2 linked regions of the Homo sapiens genome follow. The protein of the gene in region 1 interacts with the protein of each later gene in a pairwise test. Each region holds a gene or a part of one and is shown in the gene's direction. Other genes may lie near its edges.

Region 1 (8,149 bases):
CTGCACCAGGGTCCTCCAACTGGAGGCTGCTTTTAGCCCTAGGGCTAGCGTGCTCTCTTAAGCCAGAAGTTTTAGGGGCAAGAGATCCCTAATATGCATGAATGACTCTCACAAGACAGGCAGGAAGTCTCCAAGAGACTTCCTTTACCCCTAGGGAAATGCCATCTGATCTTTGAGATAAGGGGCTGGGAGCAGTTTGATTTCATCTCCAGAGAAGGAAGCCCTCAGTTAAGGGGTCATCTTGCTCTTTTCCCCACTCCAGGGCCTCTCTGCCTTATCTCTGTGCCACCTGTGACCCCAGGCCTTATACATGATTGAGAGGATTACCCAAACAGACCTAATTGACTTATTGGAAATCCAATCCTTTGATTTTTTAATTCACTTCTTTTGTGCTGCTTTATGGAGACAAAGGAGACTCCCCTATACTGCCTGTGAAGAGCAAGACAGTCTGCAGCCCCGACTGTGAGGACTGTGAGGCCTCCTGTGTCAGCAGATGTGCATGTACTCTCTGTACTGATCCCCTGGAAAGGTGGCCTGTTTGAAAGCAGTCCTGCCCAGGCCTGCAGTAATGAAGATTAAGCCTCAGAGTACTACAGGTTACCCATTTTGTTTTGTTTAGCCCCTTTCATCAAATGCTTATAAAATTCTAGGAGCTTACCTAGGGTTTATTGTTGATAACCTCAAACATATGTGAATCATCCACTCCAAACTAGGGCAGTTTTCTTCTCAGGCCCTCCAAGGGAGTTCGGTGACATTGGCACATTGTGGGGATGAATAGGCTGAAATGCCAGGTACACAGTTAGTGGAAAGACTCCAAACCAAGCAAAGGTTGAACGTCAGGTAACTGGAGTAGGGGGTGTATTAGTTAGCTAGGGCCGCTGTAACAAAGTACCCCAAACGGGGTGGCTTAAACAACAGATATTTATTATCTCACTTTTCTGGGGGCTAGAAGTCCAAGGTCAACGTGTGCCAGAGTTGGTTCCTTCTGAGAGAGCTGTGAGGTAGGATCTGTTCCATGACTCTCTTCTCGTTTCTGGTGGTTTGCTGGCAAGCTTTGGCATTCCTTGCCTTGGAGGTCTCTGCCTTCATCTTCACCTGCATTCTTCCCCTGTGTATGTCTGGAAGTCCAGAGTATACTTTTTATAAAGACACCAGTCATATTGGATGTTTAAAATGACCTCATCCTAACTAATTACATCTGCAAGGACCGTCTTTCCAAATAAGATCACATCCTGAGGGTACTAGGGGTTAGGACTTCAACTTATGAATTTTGGGGGAGAGATAGTCAACCCATAATGGGCATAAGAGACCGGGAGTGGTATATGAAATATAGTTTGAATTCCACCTCAAGACCTTGAGCTTATGACTTCTGTCTAGCTCTGTGTATCATTCATACTTCCCACTAATTTTTAACAAAATGACTGGGAGAGGGAGAAAGTGAAACCCAGTGGACTGAGGCTTGAGTGAGCATTACCTCCTGGGCCTGTTGATTTGCGTCTCCCTGGTGACCTTCTTCTCTGACCAGCATCCGTGGGCTTAGGGAAAGCACGGTGGTGGAAATGTGATCCTGGTGTGTGAGATGCAAACTTGATCTTAGCCTTTGCTCTCCCTGGAAACTTATCGGTCAAAACTTTCACTAAAGGCAGTTTTTTGTCTGTTTGTTTAGGTTTACTGGTTATTTATTATTTATAGCATGGTTAAATTGGGTCAAATTTTTATGAATTGTAAGTAGAGAAACTTTTCTAATAAGAGGAAAGGATAAGAAATCAGACCTTTTTGTAAAGAAAATTACCCCACTTAAAGTCCTGGTTTATTTTAGGCCGTTTGGCAGTGAGAAGAAGGGATTATTTGTGTCTGACAGAGGTCTACAAGGAAAAAGGTTTGGGATCAGAAAACACTTCCAACCAGAATGACGGTTCCCTGCCAGTCCTTGGTCTTTCTTCCTCCCTTCCTTCTGTGCCCACATGGACTAATTATGTCTGGCTTTCCCTCCCTCTTCCTTGTATATTTCCCTTCCATATCAAGACCTTCAGAATGAGGGCAATGTGGATAATTTCCCAGTTTTCCAGCTGGGCAGCTCACCAAGAACAAACCCAGACATCAAGGCCAGACCAAAAAAATCTTCTTGTTTTAGACAGAAGACTCCTACATCTGGGGGATTTAATGCACCCACTGTCCGCTCAGTGCATTTCCTGTGTCCGGAGCTTCTCTGCCTGCCGGCTCTGGTCTCGTAAGTTTCCATGCCCTGCTGCCAACTTATAATAACAGAGGCGGCAGGCAGCAGGCTGAGAATGTCATAGCCTACTCCATACATGGGCACTGCTTTGCAGACTGAAACAAAGCTTGCAGGGTCTCATTGCAGGCCTCTCAGCCTTGACAGTGGTTGTGCCCAGACCACCAGGAGCCTGGAATTAAATACCCTCGGATCCAGTTCTCTACTGTTAATGTTATCAGCTTCATCAAGTACTTCCTCTTTGAGTGATATCTGTGGAGAAATAAATAAATCAAGCTCCTCCAAGTCCTGTTCCTGCCTGGATCCTGAGTCCAAAGTAAAATCTGAGTTGGATTATCCAAAGCACTATCACCCTCCTGCATTGTTCCCAAGGTCTGGGCAGGAACGGAGAGTGAAATCTCTCCAGGACATTACATCAGTTCCTCCTTTACCCTTGGCATGAAAGTTCTTCCTCTCCTGGTCCTCCCAGACTTCCTAAGGCCTGCCCTGAGTGCACACCCACACACTAAGCCTTGAAGCCCAGGACATCAAAGAAAGCCTGCAGGTAACCAGATTACTGACCAACGCCTGTGACCGTTTTGAAATTTATAAGATGGGAAATGGATTCAGGAAATGGGATTTTTCAATACATGGTCTTCATCATCCTTAAGTATTTTTAAGCCTTAATAAGCTTTTAAGTAAAGAGAGACATTCTGTAAATGGCATTTAGAAGAAAATATAGGAAAGTTCAAACTGGAACTGTCTTCAATAGTTGTTTACAGTGATCATATTCTGTGACAAATGAAAAGTGGACCAGGGACAAAAGATAAATACATTTCTATGGGCAGCAGAATTGACATCCATATTATCTATAAAAGGAAAGTTTGCCTTGTCTACAAAAGATTACAGATCATTTTAGTTGGTGCCCAGTAAGCATTTCTATGCATTTGGGTTAAAGTGAGGAAGTTAGTGCTTGTCTTTCCAACCTATATCCTTGCAAGGTTAATTAAGCACTTTAAAAAAAAAAAAGCTTTTTATAACAGGAAATATCAAACCTATACAAAAGTAAAGAGAATTGTGTAATGAATCACCATGTACCCATCACCAGTTTTGATGATCAACTCAAGGCCAATCATGTCTTCCTCTGTGGTCTACCTCCTCTCTCCTTCACCATCCCAGATTATTTTACAGCAAATCTCAGATATATAATTTCCCTTGTAAATAGTATCAACAGGCTGGGCGCGGTGGCTCATGCCTGTAATCCCAGCACTTTGGGAGGCTGAGGTGGGCGGATCATGAGGTCAGGAGATCGAGACCATCCTGGCTAACATGGTGAAACCCTGTCTTTACTAAAACTACAAAAAATTAGCCAGGCATGGTGGCGGGCACCTGTAGTCCCAGCTACTCAGGAGGCTGAGGCAGGAGAATGGCGTGAACCCGGGAGGTGGAGCTTGCAGTGAGCAGAGATCACGCCACTGCACTCCAGCCTGGGTGAAAGAGCGAGACTCCGTCTCAAAAAAAAAAAAAAAAAAATAGTGTCAACATAGGTCTCAAAAAAAGACTATAAAATCATAATAGAACCATCATATCACTTGAAAACTAGTAGTTCCTCGGTATCATCAAATAATCTGCTAGTGTTCACTTTTTGCCAACCATCTCATAAATGTTTTTTACAGTTTGGATCAGAATCCAAACAACATCTATACATTGCAGATGGTTAACGTATCTCTTAAGTTTTTTTCAACCTATAGGTTCCCATCTGCAACCTTCTTGTGTGTGTGTTTGAGCAGTCCCTCTCTTCAGGTTTTTTTAAAGAAGTCAGCCATAATTAGTATATTCGTATATATAATATATTATATATATTAGCGTAGGCTTATATATACTATGTAAGTATATACTTATATAGTATTAGTATATACTATATATCATATATACTATAATCATATATAGTATATATGGTGTGTGTGTATATATATACTATATATCATACTATGCATATATAGTATATTAGTATAATCTCCCCCTGTACATAGTTTCTTTTTTTCCTCTGGTTGCTTTCAAGATTTTCTCTTTATTTTTGGTTTTCAGCAGTTTGACTATGGTGTACCTGGGTGTGGTTTTTATTTTACATATCTTACTTGAGATTCTTGGACCTTCGAATTTACTGTTGTTGATAATGTTGTTACCAAATTTGAGGACAATCTAGCCATTATTTTTTAATTTATTCTACTCTGTTTTTTTCTATATTCTCCTTCTTGGACACCAATTACATGTGTGTTAGACCACGTGATATTGTTCCACAGGTCACTGAGGATTTGTTTTGTTTGGATTTCATTTTTACTGATCTGTCTTCAAATTTTCTAACCCTTTCTTCTCTCATCTCCGTTCTGCTATTAAGTCCATCTAGTCCGGTCTTTCATTTCAGATATTATACTTTTCAGTTATAGAATCTTTATTTTGCCTTTTTTTTTAATTCCATTTCCCTTTTGGCAGCCTGTATGTGTCATCATTTATTACAACCATGATTTTCTTTTAGGGCTTGAACTTATTTATAATAGCTGCTGTAAAGTTTTTCTGTTTGTTTGTGTTAACTCCAACATCTGCATTATCTCAGGTTCTGTTTCTTTTGATGGCCTTTCCTCCTTATTATGAGTCACATGTTTGTATTTCTTCTCATATCTAGAAAATTGTGACTGGATGCTGAGCACATTGAGACACTGGATTGTGTTCTATTCCACTGAAGAGTATTGACTTTTGTTCTAGGAGGCAATCAAATTACTGGCCAGTTACTTTGAATCTGTAGAGGCATGGTCTTACGTTTCATTAGGTCCAATCTGTTTCTATTTTGCCTTTTGCCCTTAGCAGATCCCCTTGTCCTAGGGTTTTTACTCCTACATTGTGGCCATTCTGGGGTAACAAACAGCCTGAAGTGTTTACAGAGCCTTTGAACTTGATGAGACTCAAACTCTGAACTCTGTCTCCACTGCAGTAGCCAGTAGCTGAGGTTTCCGCTTAGATCTTTTGATTATACAACTGTTGCTTTTCACTGAACTCCAAAGGGTCTCCCTGGCACTTGGGCTATTCGGTAATCAGACAAGAATTTGAGGAAGCTTTTACATGCCAATTTAATCACTCTCCCCTCTGTGGCTCCCACTGTATGGGATTTGTTTCTTCAATTTTCTGCCATTCTGGCAGCTACCTACTCTATCTCAAGCAACTTTCTGTTTATCTTCTAACTGCCCCTGTGCTGCACGGACTGGGGAGGAACATGCAGCATAGGGCAGTTAGGAGATCAACAGAATCAGGGGGAAAGCTGTTTAAATATGGACCTCACTCTGTGCAGTTCCCTTCTTTCAAGAGTGAAATCCTCTCCGGTTTTTGTCTGCCCTTGATACCTTCAAATAGTTTTTTCAATGTATTTAATATGGTTTCTTTCATTTCTACCCGTAAGAAGGTTAGTTTGGTACACGCCACTCTGCTATTGTTGAACTGAAATTGCCCCTTTCCTTGTTTAGATAAGTGGTGGCAGATCATAAATACTTCATCTTGCTTTTCGTATCTAACCATAGATTCTGATGCTAGTCCTTAGCAAAATATCAAGATACTCCTCATTCCTTTTTACTTTTACGTAGTACTCCATTTTTTAGAGATATATACTATAATTTATTAAATCAGTCTTCTATTGATAGCTATTCCAATGATGAGGCACTTGAATTTATGGCAGTGGGTTATACAGTAGTCACAAAATAAGCCCTTTGCCTTCAAGGAGATGATCTTTTAATATTGTGAACAATATTTTTGTTCAGTGATCATATGATAGATGAGATCTAGTAGAACTTTCAAAAAAGAAAAAAGTCCGCATTTTCTTCTTAACCCTGTGTAAAACTTAAAACCACTATGTCTGTCTCTGTTTACTGACCCTATCAAATTACGGAATTCACTTTATGTGTTCTTCATATATGTATATTATCTTAATGGACAAAGGTGATATGTTTGACTTGCTTTACTTAGAACTGTGGACAATTCTTTGACCAGAACAAGGACAGCAAGCATGCACATCCTTTTGGTGAGACTGCCCTGGGAACAGATGTGGCCAGAGAGAGTTCATTGAGTTGGGTGTGGAGCCGTGTAGAAATCCCCATTTTTATGGGCAGATTTCTGTCCTTCTGCACCTTAGCAGGGACTTCTGGAGCCAGGTGTGTGCCGGTCCATTCCCCGACCCAGCCCTCAGAGCTACTTCTCTTGCTGAGCTGTGTACACTTCTGATGTTATCCTCGCTCACATGTCACCAGCTTGCAACTTTGAGTGGGATGAGTTAGAGGTGTCCATCCATCCTGCTTCTTCCTTACTTCTGCCTGTCTCTGAGCACTCAGGAGCAAAGTGCTCCCAAAAGTTCTTTCAAGTTCAGTAAGATTGTCATTCTGTAAATTGGGGCCACTGTGCATGCTTAGAGCAGGTTTTGGTGTGACTTTGTGTCATAGTTTCTATATTGCAGTGACAGATGTTGTCATGAGTACACAGGTTCTAGAATCTGACTGGAGTCTGGTTCTATAATCTCCTAACTGGCTGTGTGACCTTGGGTAAGTTATTTAACTTCTTTACGCCTCAGTTTTATCATCTGTAAAATAGGGGTACTAGTGGTATCTCTTGGTTAGGAGTGTCATGAGTGTCATAAGGTTGGGGGTTTTTTTCTTTTTTCTTCTTTTTTTTTTTTTTTTTGAGACAAAGTTTTGCTCTGTCACCCAGGCTGGAGTGCAATGGTGTGATCTTGGCTCGCTGCAACCTCCACCTCCTGGGTTCAAGCGATTCTCATGTCTCAGCCTCCCGAGTAACTGGGATTACAGGCGGGAGCCACCGCACCCAGCCAGGAGTGCTATAAGTTTTAAACAGTGAAATCCAGCATCTAAGATATAGTTATTACTAATAATTATTACTAATATTATTAACATTATCACTAATACTAATAACTCCTAGAGTTAGAGAATATGAAAATTTTAGTTGTGAAAATGTAAGTCAATGAAAGCATCTAGAGAGAAACCTGTAAGAACCCTTCCACCTCTGAAAGCGACGTAGAAGAGTTAAATGATGGCCAAAAGATGGGGCATGGAAGTTTGGCTTCCTTGTGCCTACAGGCCACAGGTAGGTCATTAACGGAATGCTTGTAGACATCCTTAGGTTGTCTGGCAATAGAAAAATAGTTTCAATATGCACACCTTAAGGCCAGGCGCGGTGGCTCACGCCTGTAATCCCAGCACTTTGGGAGGCTGAGGCAGGCAGAGCACGAGGTCAGGAGACCCAGACCATCCTGGCTAACACGGTGAAACCCCATCTCTACTAAAAATAAAAAAAATTAGCCGAGCATGGTGGTGGGCGCCTGTAGTCCCAGCTACTCGGGAGGCTGAGGCCGGAGAATGGCATGAACCCGGGAGGCAGAGCTTGCAGTGAGCCGAGATCGTGCCACTGCACTCCAGCCTGGGCAACAGAGTGAGACTCCATCTCAAACAGAAAAAAAAAAAAAATATGCACCCTTCAAATTGTTAAGCAGTGAAAAAGACACTGCATTCTGGGGAGAAAGGTCCTTTACACATACCTACACGCTCCTCCATTTACCGCCTGTAGAGCCGCAGGGAGTTTCCTGTCCTGCCAACTCACTGGGGTCTGTGATTGTCTTTCCCTCTGCTCCACAGATAACTGTGTCCAGAGGACCCCCAGGCCATCCGTGGATAATGTGCACCATAACCCTCCCACCATTGAACTGTTGCACCGCTCCAGGTCACCTATCACGACAAATCACCGGCCTTCTCCTGACCCCGAGCAGCGGCCCCTCCGGTCCCCCCTGGACAACATGATCCGCCGCCTCTCCCCGGCTGAGAGAGCTCAGGGACCCAGGCCGCACCAGGAGAACAACCACCAGGAGTCCTACCCTCTGTCAGTGTC
Region 2 (8,149 bases), on another chromosome or scaffold:
TATTAAATGAAAAGTGATGTAGGTTAACATCAACTCCCAAAACCTGTCTGGTATAAATACATAATCACTAAGTTCTATTTATTTTTAAAATGTGAAGCATAAAAACAATTACACCCTTCCTGCCATGCCATATATTTCATATATGTTCTTAAATTTAATTCACCTAGTCTTTATTGTATACTTCCTGTGAGGCACTGGCTCTCAAAGTTGGACTCACCAGAAGCACTTTACAAAATATGATACCTAGATTCCACTCCCAGAATGCCTGGTTTAATTGGTATGGGGAACAGCCTGGGGATTGAGGTTTTTAAAATCTCCCCACCTTAACCTTCAGCAAACTGAGATTCACTGCTGTAGGGCTAGGGAACAGATGGTGATGCTGGTGAACCACTATCAGTAGGGTTTGTCCTTTGAGCTAACTGCTAAATTAGGGGTATGTTTGTCTTAATTTAGCTACAAATCTTGTTCAGCTCCCTTTTGGACCAGTGGTCTGGACGTGATTCATAGGCTTAGAAGCAGAGTCTTTGGATTTGAAAGAGAGAAAGGATGCCTGGCAGCAGTGCAAAGGAGTGGAGAGAGCACTGTTCTAGGAGTCAGACACTCTGTATTCTAGCATGAGCTCCACTGCTAGCCGATTGTGTACTGATTTTTTTACTCATCTTCAAACTGAAGAATAATGATGTCCTCCTGCTTGCCTCTTAGCATTCTTGTGAGGTTCAGATGTATCAATATGTCTTTAAAACGTATACTCACTATTAGAATTGTTGTTTTTAGTGAATGAACCTAAGATCTTGGTTTTCAATGCCATGTTCTATCTTGCTGAACAAGCCACATGAGTTACATTGTAGGTCACATGGGGGAAATGATTGTTTGTTTTGATAATCAGTTTGCCTTAGTTATCTTATAAATCAACTATTTATTTTGTTACCTTGGTTTGATAAGAGTTGAGATCTTTCCTATGCAGACTATCACTATAGGTAAGAGTAGGGTGTGTATGTGTGTGTGTGTGTGTGTGTGTTCTCTGAAATGTCTCATTATGTAATAAAGGCAAAGAAGTTGCACAGTATGTGATTGAACAGTGAACCCCAATCGCAGATTTCATGAGATTATTTTTAAAACATTGGTTATGTTGTGTAATTTCTTTAGCAATTGCATTAGAGTTCCCATTTGTTGTTCTAGTTATATTGGATATTATGCACTAATATTGATGGTTTTTGTACAGAGCTCTTTATATACTATTGGAATACAAGTTTTTTTTATGGTTGTATGTTTTTTTGATATTGACTCGGCCAGGCTAAACATGTTTGGTAGAACCAGGTTCTATAATATTGTACTAATATATTTTAGTTTAAAGTTCTATAATATTAAATCTTAGAATTCAGTGTGAGTGACACATTTTGTCAAGTACATCCCTACTTTTGTGGCTTGTGTGGGCCAGGGTAAGTGATAACTGTGGCAGAAAGTGAAGCATGTACAAATATTGACTCAGGTCACTCTGCAGGAGCTGGCAGGATTAGGGGTGTTCTCCCATTGCCAAGCATGTTGCTTAACACGTTGGGCAGCAGAGCTGTCCAGACAATATTGGAACAATTATTATGAAGGAATTTCCTAGAGTTTGTACAGAAGTAATGTAAGATATATTTACAATAAGGAAAGCTCATATTTTGGCCATCTATTCTTACTTTAGGGTATAAAAGAAAAACATTTAAATCAAAGTCCTGAAATTCTTTTATATATCTTCACCCTTTTTTGAATCCTTTTGTTCCTTAGTGTATGGTGTTGAGGGGAAGGGAACATTTTAGATTCAGTAGTCACGTCACTTATGTCTACTTGAAAAGCAGAATCTAATTATGAAAATGTAAGTCTGTGAAATGTTCCTGTCATGTCAAGAATCACTTCTGGTATTCCCCATAATTACTGTTTTGCCATTCTCTAACTCAGGTTATCTTCACTTGCAAGTCTGTTATCAATTGAGATAGATGATAGGTATCAATCAGAAATATAATTATAAATGGGCTCATTGAGAATGGAGACAAGAATGAGTATTTCATATTTCTAAGGATGACACAGGAGGCATAATTATTGTTATGTCCGTTAAGTAAGAAAATCCAATAAAACCCCTTGGAAGACTGAAATAAATCCAAATTCTGAATTCAAAAAATATTCTAAATGATGATTTTAATTTTGGAGATGAGCAATTTTAAAATGTGCCTCATAATTTCTCACTACTGATAAATAATGAAGTGAGCCCAAAATAGCATGTCAGCCAGCAAACATACCTTCCATCCCTGTCACCCAATATATTCAACAGTAACTGAGCAAAGAAAATGATATAACCTAATGCAACATACCTCAGAGGCTAACAGCCAAGGCAAAAATGGATGCAGAGGTTCTTTGATCATAACAGAGAGACCTGTCTCCTGGGCTGTCTTAGAATTTTACTGGCAAGTTGACCAGTTCCTGAGGATTCTCACTAAGATTCCCAAATCTGAAGAGAAGAAAACTGAGTAGGTATCCTCACCATTTTGGGTTGTTCTTGTTTTCTCTTGTGGCTGAGAAATAGTAGAAATGAAGGCTTCAGAGCAGCGTACTAAATTGGGAGAAAGATCGATCCATAGCTCTTTGGAATGACGTACCTTTCACCAACTAAACTTAGAGATTCTGCCAAGAAGAAAAACATCAACTCATTGAACCCATGGAATTAGACGTCTTAGTATTGCTTCCTACAAATAGAGCACCTTACATAAATTTTATATTAAAAAAAGCTGAAAGGTGAGATGATAAACAAGAGAATGAGATGAGAAAGGAGATATAGATCTCAGGAAATGAATCAAGAATGGAAAATCATAATGATTATAGAAAAAAATATTCATTAGAAATAGAAGAAAACAGAATAGGCCCAGGTAAAAATCTTTACACATAAAGATGAAAGGTTTGAAAAAAATCAGAGTAAATGAAAAAGGAAAACAGTTAGACAAAGTAGAAATTCTCAAACATGAAAGAGGCTGCTTGACAGTGAAAGCCACACAGTGAAGAGATGAACTTAAAACAAACAAAAAACTAAATTCAGAAGTAGAGAAAACATTATCAAAGTAACGAGGGAACACTGAATGCATTTAAACAACTATTGGATTGTGTTTATAGGGCAGAAAACAGATATTATAAAGTAGGGGAATGTAAAAATATTAATAAAGCTGGCCAGTGTGAGGTGTTAGAGAGAGGTGAGATGGAAGGATGTGAGAAATGCTAATATCCTTCCCTTTCTGAGCAGGGACAGACTCCCTGCTGCTTAAAATAGAAACACATACTTAAAAAAAAGATTCAAAGCACTGATTTTTAAAAATAGTTTATTTAACCTTAAAGAGGTCTTTTTGGAAATAGTATCTCTTACGTTAAGGAAGTATTTAGTACATTTATAGTTCCTTCAACTGCAGTTTTAAATCTGCTTAATTCAGTTAAGTTTAAATTTAAATTCAGTTAAGTTTAATTTCAGTTTTTAAAAATAAATATAACATCAGTGATATGTTCTTATTTTTATAATTTTTTAAATCTATCCATCCATCTCCTGAAGAATTCATATAAAGATAGGAAGAAATAAGGAAAGATGCTGTGCTGTGTTTGGTGAAGAGGAGGGGCTTTTTCTTTCAGCATCATACCTCTTTACAGTGTATGATTTTTTATAATAGGCATGTATTCTATGAGAAGTGTTCATTACACACCCCCACACAAAGCTACCATGTCAAAATACTAACAGTGATTAATTGTAAGTAGTAGGTATATTAGTTAGGTTGTTTTCTCCTGCAGATAAAAGAACACTCTAGTCAAAATGACAGACAAGTAGGACATTTATCATGTGATAAAGTAGTTGGGTGGTTAGGCAGCACCAGGTAGTCAAAAATGGCAGCAGCATTCAGGTCCTTCATATAGCTCCACTCTGCTGGTCTTAGCCTTGGTTGGTGTGATCCTAAGATTGGATCCTCCAATGGTCACAAACTGACTTGTAGCAGTTCCAAGCATTATGTATGTTTATGCATAACAAATTGCAGAGACAAAGGTTGGATCCTCCAATGGTCACAAGTTGACTCGTAGCAGTTTCAAGCATCATGTTATTTATGCACGACAAACTCCAGAGACAAAGAGGGGAAACTGCTGTCTTGGCGTCTCTTTTAAAGGAAAGAAATCTTACCCAGACTTCTCCAGCAGATCATCCTTTATTCTATATTGACTAGAATAGCATCACCTGCCTATTCTTTCACTTGTTTTTCAGAGGAGTGGGACCCATGACTGAGCTGGGAAGGCAGGATACCTAAACCTGCTCAAGTTTCTATTGGGAAGAACCAAGAAGCAGGAGGAATAGATGTTAGCTAGGCACTAGCAGTATTTGCTACAACGTGGATATTGGTGATAAGAAGTTTCTTCTTTGCAATTTTATTTACTTTTTAGTTTCCACAAATATAATAAAGTAAATGGACTATGTTTATAATTTCCCTTTCAGTTGAACTATGGGTGTTGACTTTCTTTTCATGAAGATAATATATCTGTTTAAATACTAATGTAAGTATTTTTTACTAGTATTGAATATAAGTTTTTTATTAATATTGAATAGATTGCCTTTCTTAGTACTGTCTATTGTTAGAAGAAGCCCCCTAATAAAGAGACTGAAGTAATTGTAGAAGAAACTGGATCTCTCTAAGCTATTAATCATGTTTTCTGAAGGAAGGAGAGTCAACATTGTGGCCTCATGCCTTACAAGCATTTATTATAAACGTGAATAGAGTATTCCTTTAATGTTGGCTTCGAGGCACACAAAATTTTTTTTGAGAAATATAATAATATATGAATTGTTTTCAATATATGAAAGGAGGATTATCTTAAAAATACTCAGAATGTGTTCGCCAGTAGGTTGTCACAAGTATTACATTTTAAGAATCATGAACAATTTTTACAATATGGAATGATAAGCACTACATTTTAACATTTTTTTTCTGAATTTGAATGCTTTGAAAATAATTTAATTGAAATAAAAGCTCATGCAAATGACTTTAGAAAAGAAGCTTTCAAGAAGAAATTCAAAAATATGTTGGCCTCTGCCTCAAATGAGTGTTGGCTGTGCCATGGTCCCCCCTGTTTTTGAAAGGAAGCTGAAGTGAGTGGTTAGCTTGGGATATGTGGTGTCCTTCCTGTTGGCAGTTTTCCCCTTTTCTTTTCCCAGTAAGTTGGCAATAAGGAAGCAAAGAAAGAGGAAATGCCTGGTGTTCCTAGTTCCATTCTTCTTCAACTAAGTTGGTTGCACAAAACAAATTTAATTTAAACAACATTTTTCACAATACTAAACGACCTACACTTTCAAGTGTTATCAGAGAACGTTATGTTTAGGTTTACTCTGAGTTGCTATGATTCATGAATATAAGAATAAATACTTCTTGTGTTTTTATAAGAATATATTTTCCATTCATTATCATAATGTTAACTTTTCCATAGTAAAATAAGTGATGGGCTTTTCGTGTACAGTGTTTCTTAAATACCCATTAATTAAATCCAATGAAAACCACTTTTAAGGAAGAAAGAAATTTACCAAACCACAGAGTGTAACTAGTCATTTGCTTATGATTAAACTTTTTGCATGCTGATAAGGTTGGAAATACCCACGACTTTATTTTCCTGCTTCTCCTTATGGTTCACCACTTGTATCAGAAACTTTTAAATTCATAATGTATGTTCATTATTGACCCAGTTGCAGCCATGTGGATGTTATTTTCAATTTGCTTGAGGTACATTTTGGTGAATGTCTAAGGCATGACATTTTCAAATGAGAATGTCATGAAGTTGTTTCAAAATTTGAAACTTGATATTAAAAACAAAATAAACCCCCCAAAATCCAGAAAACAAAAAATAAGTAAATTTCACTGAGTTTTCATTAAATGACATCATAGCTTGGGAGTTCTTGCTTTAGTAAAAATGTGTTTACCCAGAAGGTTTTCAGGGAACCCCATGTAGGGTGAATAAGAAAAAGCTCTTGTGTTAAGCACTGTTTTAACTTTATTCTTGATGATGCTTTTGAAATCTCATAATCAAAATTCAAGGGTGTATTTTAAGTACATGATTTTTACATTAGGAACTATCCATTTTAAGTTAGAAAGTTATCACCACCCGTTTTTGTTTTTTTCTGTCATACTCCTCTCTGATCTTCTAGTTGCTTAGTTCCAATTTTATTTTATTTTGTTTTGTTCTGTTTTTTGAGACAAAGTCTCACTCTGTCATCCAGGCAGGAGTGCAGTGGTATGATCTTGGCTCACTGCAACCTCCACCTTCTGGTTCAAGTGATTGTCCTGCCTCAGCCTCCCAAGTAGCTGGGATTACAGGCATGTGCCACCATGCCTGACTAATTTTTGTAGTTTTAGTAGAGATGGGGTTTCGCCATATTGGCCAGGCTGGTCTCGAACTCCTGACCTCAAGTGATCTGCCCGCCTTGGCCTCCCAAACTGCTGGAATTATAGGCATGAGCCGCTGCGCCCAGCCTAGTTCCAATTTTAGAGGTCAGTGATTGTAAGCATATTTTTTTCAAAAATTTTTATGTCATTCTTTTATTATTGACACAATGGCTAATGTTTCAAAAGTTTCTCTGTGTATCACTTGATCATTTAATCCTCACCACAGTTTAATAATGCAGTAGTTGTTGCAGCAATATTGGTGTTTTACAGTTGAGGAAATATATTCAGAGAGATAAGAAATTTACTGATGGTTACTGTAGGTAGGAAATGGCAGGGTCGTGTTTAAATGGCAGGGTCCTGCCCCTTTTTCTCAAAAAATATTTAGCATAGGATAATTCTGCTTGGTACTAAAAATGTGGACACATTTATATATGTATAAACAAATACCTAGACAGACTTCTTAATCCTGGGAGGTTTAAGGCACAAATAGGCAAGCATGTTGAAAGTTTTGCTGGAAGATCCTTACTTCATGTTCTCAGTGCTAGATAATTAAATTCGAGGAAGTTAGCACTATCCAGGGCTGAGAGGAGCTTAAGGAAACCAAGCTTCTATGAGCGTGCTCTTTTCCTTGGAGCAGATGCTCTGGACAGAAGCAGCATTCCTGATGCATTTGGCACCTGTTTGCCAGTGTTCATGATACACAGATCATGAGGGTAAAGTTAGCCCCGCTTCAAAATAGCAAATTATTATTAATGTATTTTGGCAGGAGAAAGTAATTTTTTTTGAAATGTTAGCATTATGGGGTTCATTTATTTTGACCAAAAGGTTTGAATTATACTCACCTTGGCATTTACCTTGAAATGTAAGGTTAATAAAGCCTATATCACCACTCAAATCCTAATTTCAACTTGCAATGTGAAATTCTCTAGCCACAATAAAGATCTAGCTAACATAATTCAGTTTCTACTTATTTTGAATATATATCTGTCCAATTTGGGTCCAGTTTGGACAATTTAGGTGAAAACTGGATGGCTGTGTTTATATGTATTATCATCATACTACGTTTTACTTTATCTTGAGTTAATTTTGCTTTATTGGATGAATGTCATATGTTCTGTAGGTGGCTTAAGCGTAAAATTCACCCATTACCTACTAATCCAATTATGCAAAAGCCCACTCTTGGCTTTCCAACAGGTAATTTTTATGATCTTATTTGCTATGAGAATCTTGAGCCATCTTCAGGAATCAATACATTGTAAAAGCATTATTGATTATCACGTTAATGATTGACATAATTTATTGCCTTCCTAGGGGAAAGAAGCTTTCAGAAGATCATTAAATGCATTAAAACCTGCAGATGTCCACATGTCTGTGCCTCTCTTTAGCAGCCTGACTCCTTTGGGTCAGTTATTCTTAGCCTCGGTATTTCTATCTTATGGCATCGCAGGTCTAAGATTAGCTTGTTAGGCGTTATCATGCCATATGAGTTACCTCCTAATATAACTCTACACTGGAATGATTATTTATAGAAAGAGCATTCTGTCATTTTTGGGTTATTTCTAGTAGTTTAAATAAAGAAGAATAACATTCAAGTGAAACCACAGATTCCTTCCTGCTGCCAAAATAGCATGATAACTGTCTGCTTAAGGGGCAATAATGTTGTTTAAATGTGTGCTTAGGGTGATTGCAGAATTCTTTTTATCTCTGCCACCTTGAGA

The links. Proteins that work in one complex are often made in the same cells at the same time.
Region 2: the proteins of ETV6 (region 1) and HDAC9 interact in binary tests that used the Homo sapiens proteins (3 or more experiments, as listed by UniProt).

Annotation. Positions count from the first base shown.
Region 1 is NC_000012.12:11,861,525-11,869,673, forward strand, and holds part of ETV6 (transcription factor ETV6), read left to right. Parts: intron 1-7,899; coding exon 7,900-8,149. UniProt on the Homo sapiens protein: Transcriptional repressor; binds to the DNA sequence 5'-CCGGAAGT-3'. Plays a role in hematopoiesis and malignant transformation.
Region 2 is NC_000007.14:18,498,086-18,506,234, forward strand, and holds part of HDAC9 (histone deacetylase 9), read left to right. Parts: intron 1-4,495; exon of another isoform or gene 4,496-4,554; intron 4,555-8,149. UniProt on the Homo sapiens protein: Responsible for the deacetylation of lysine residues on the N-terminal part of the core histones (H2A, H2B, H3 and H4).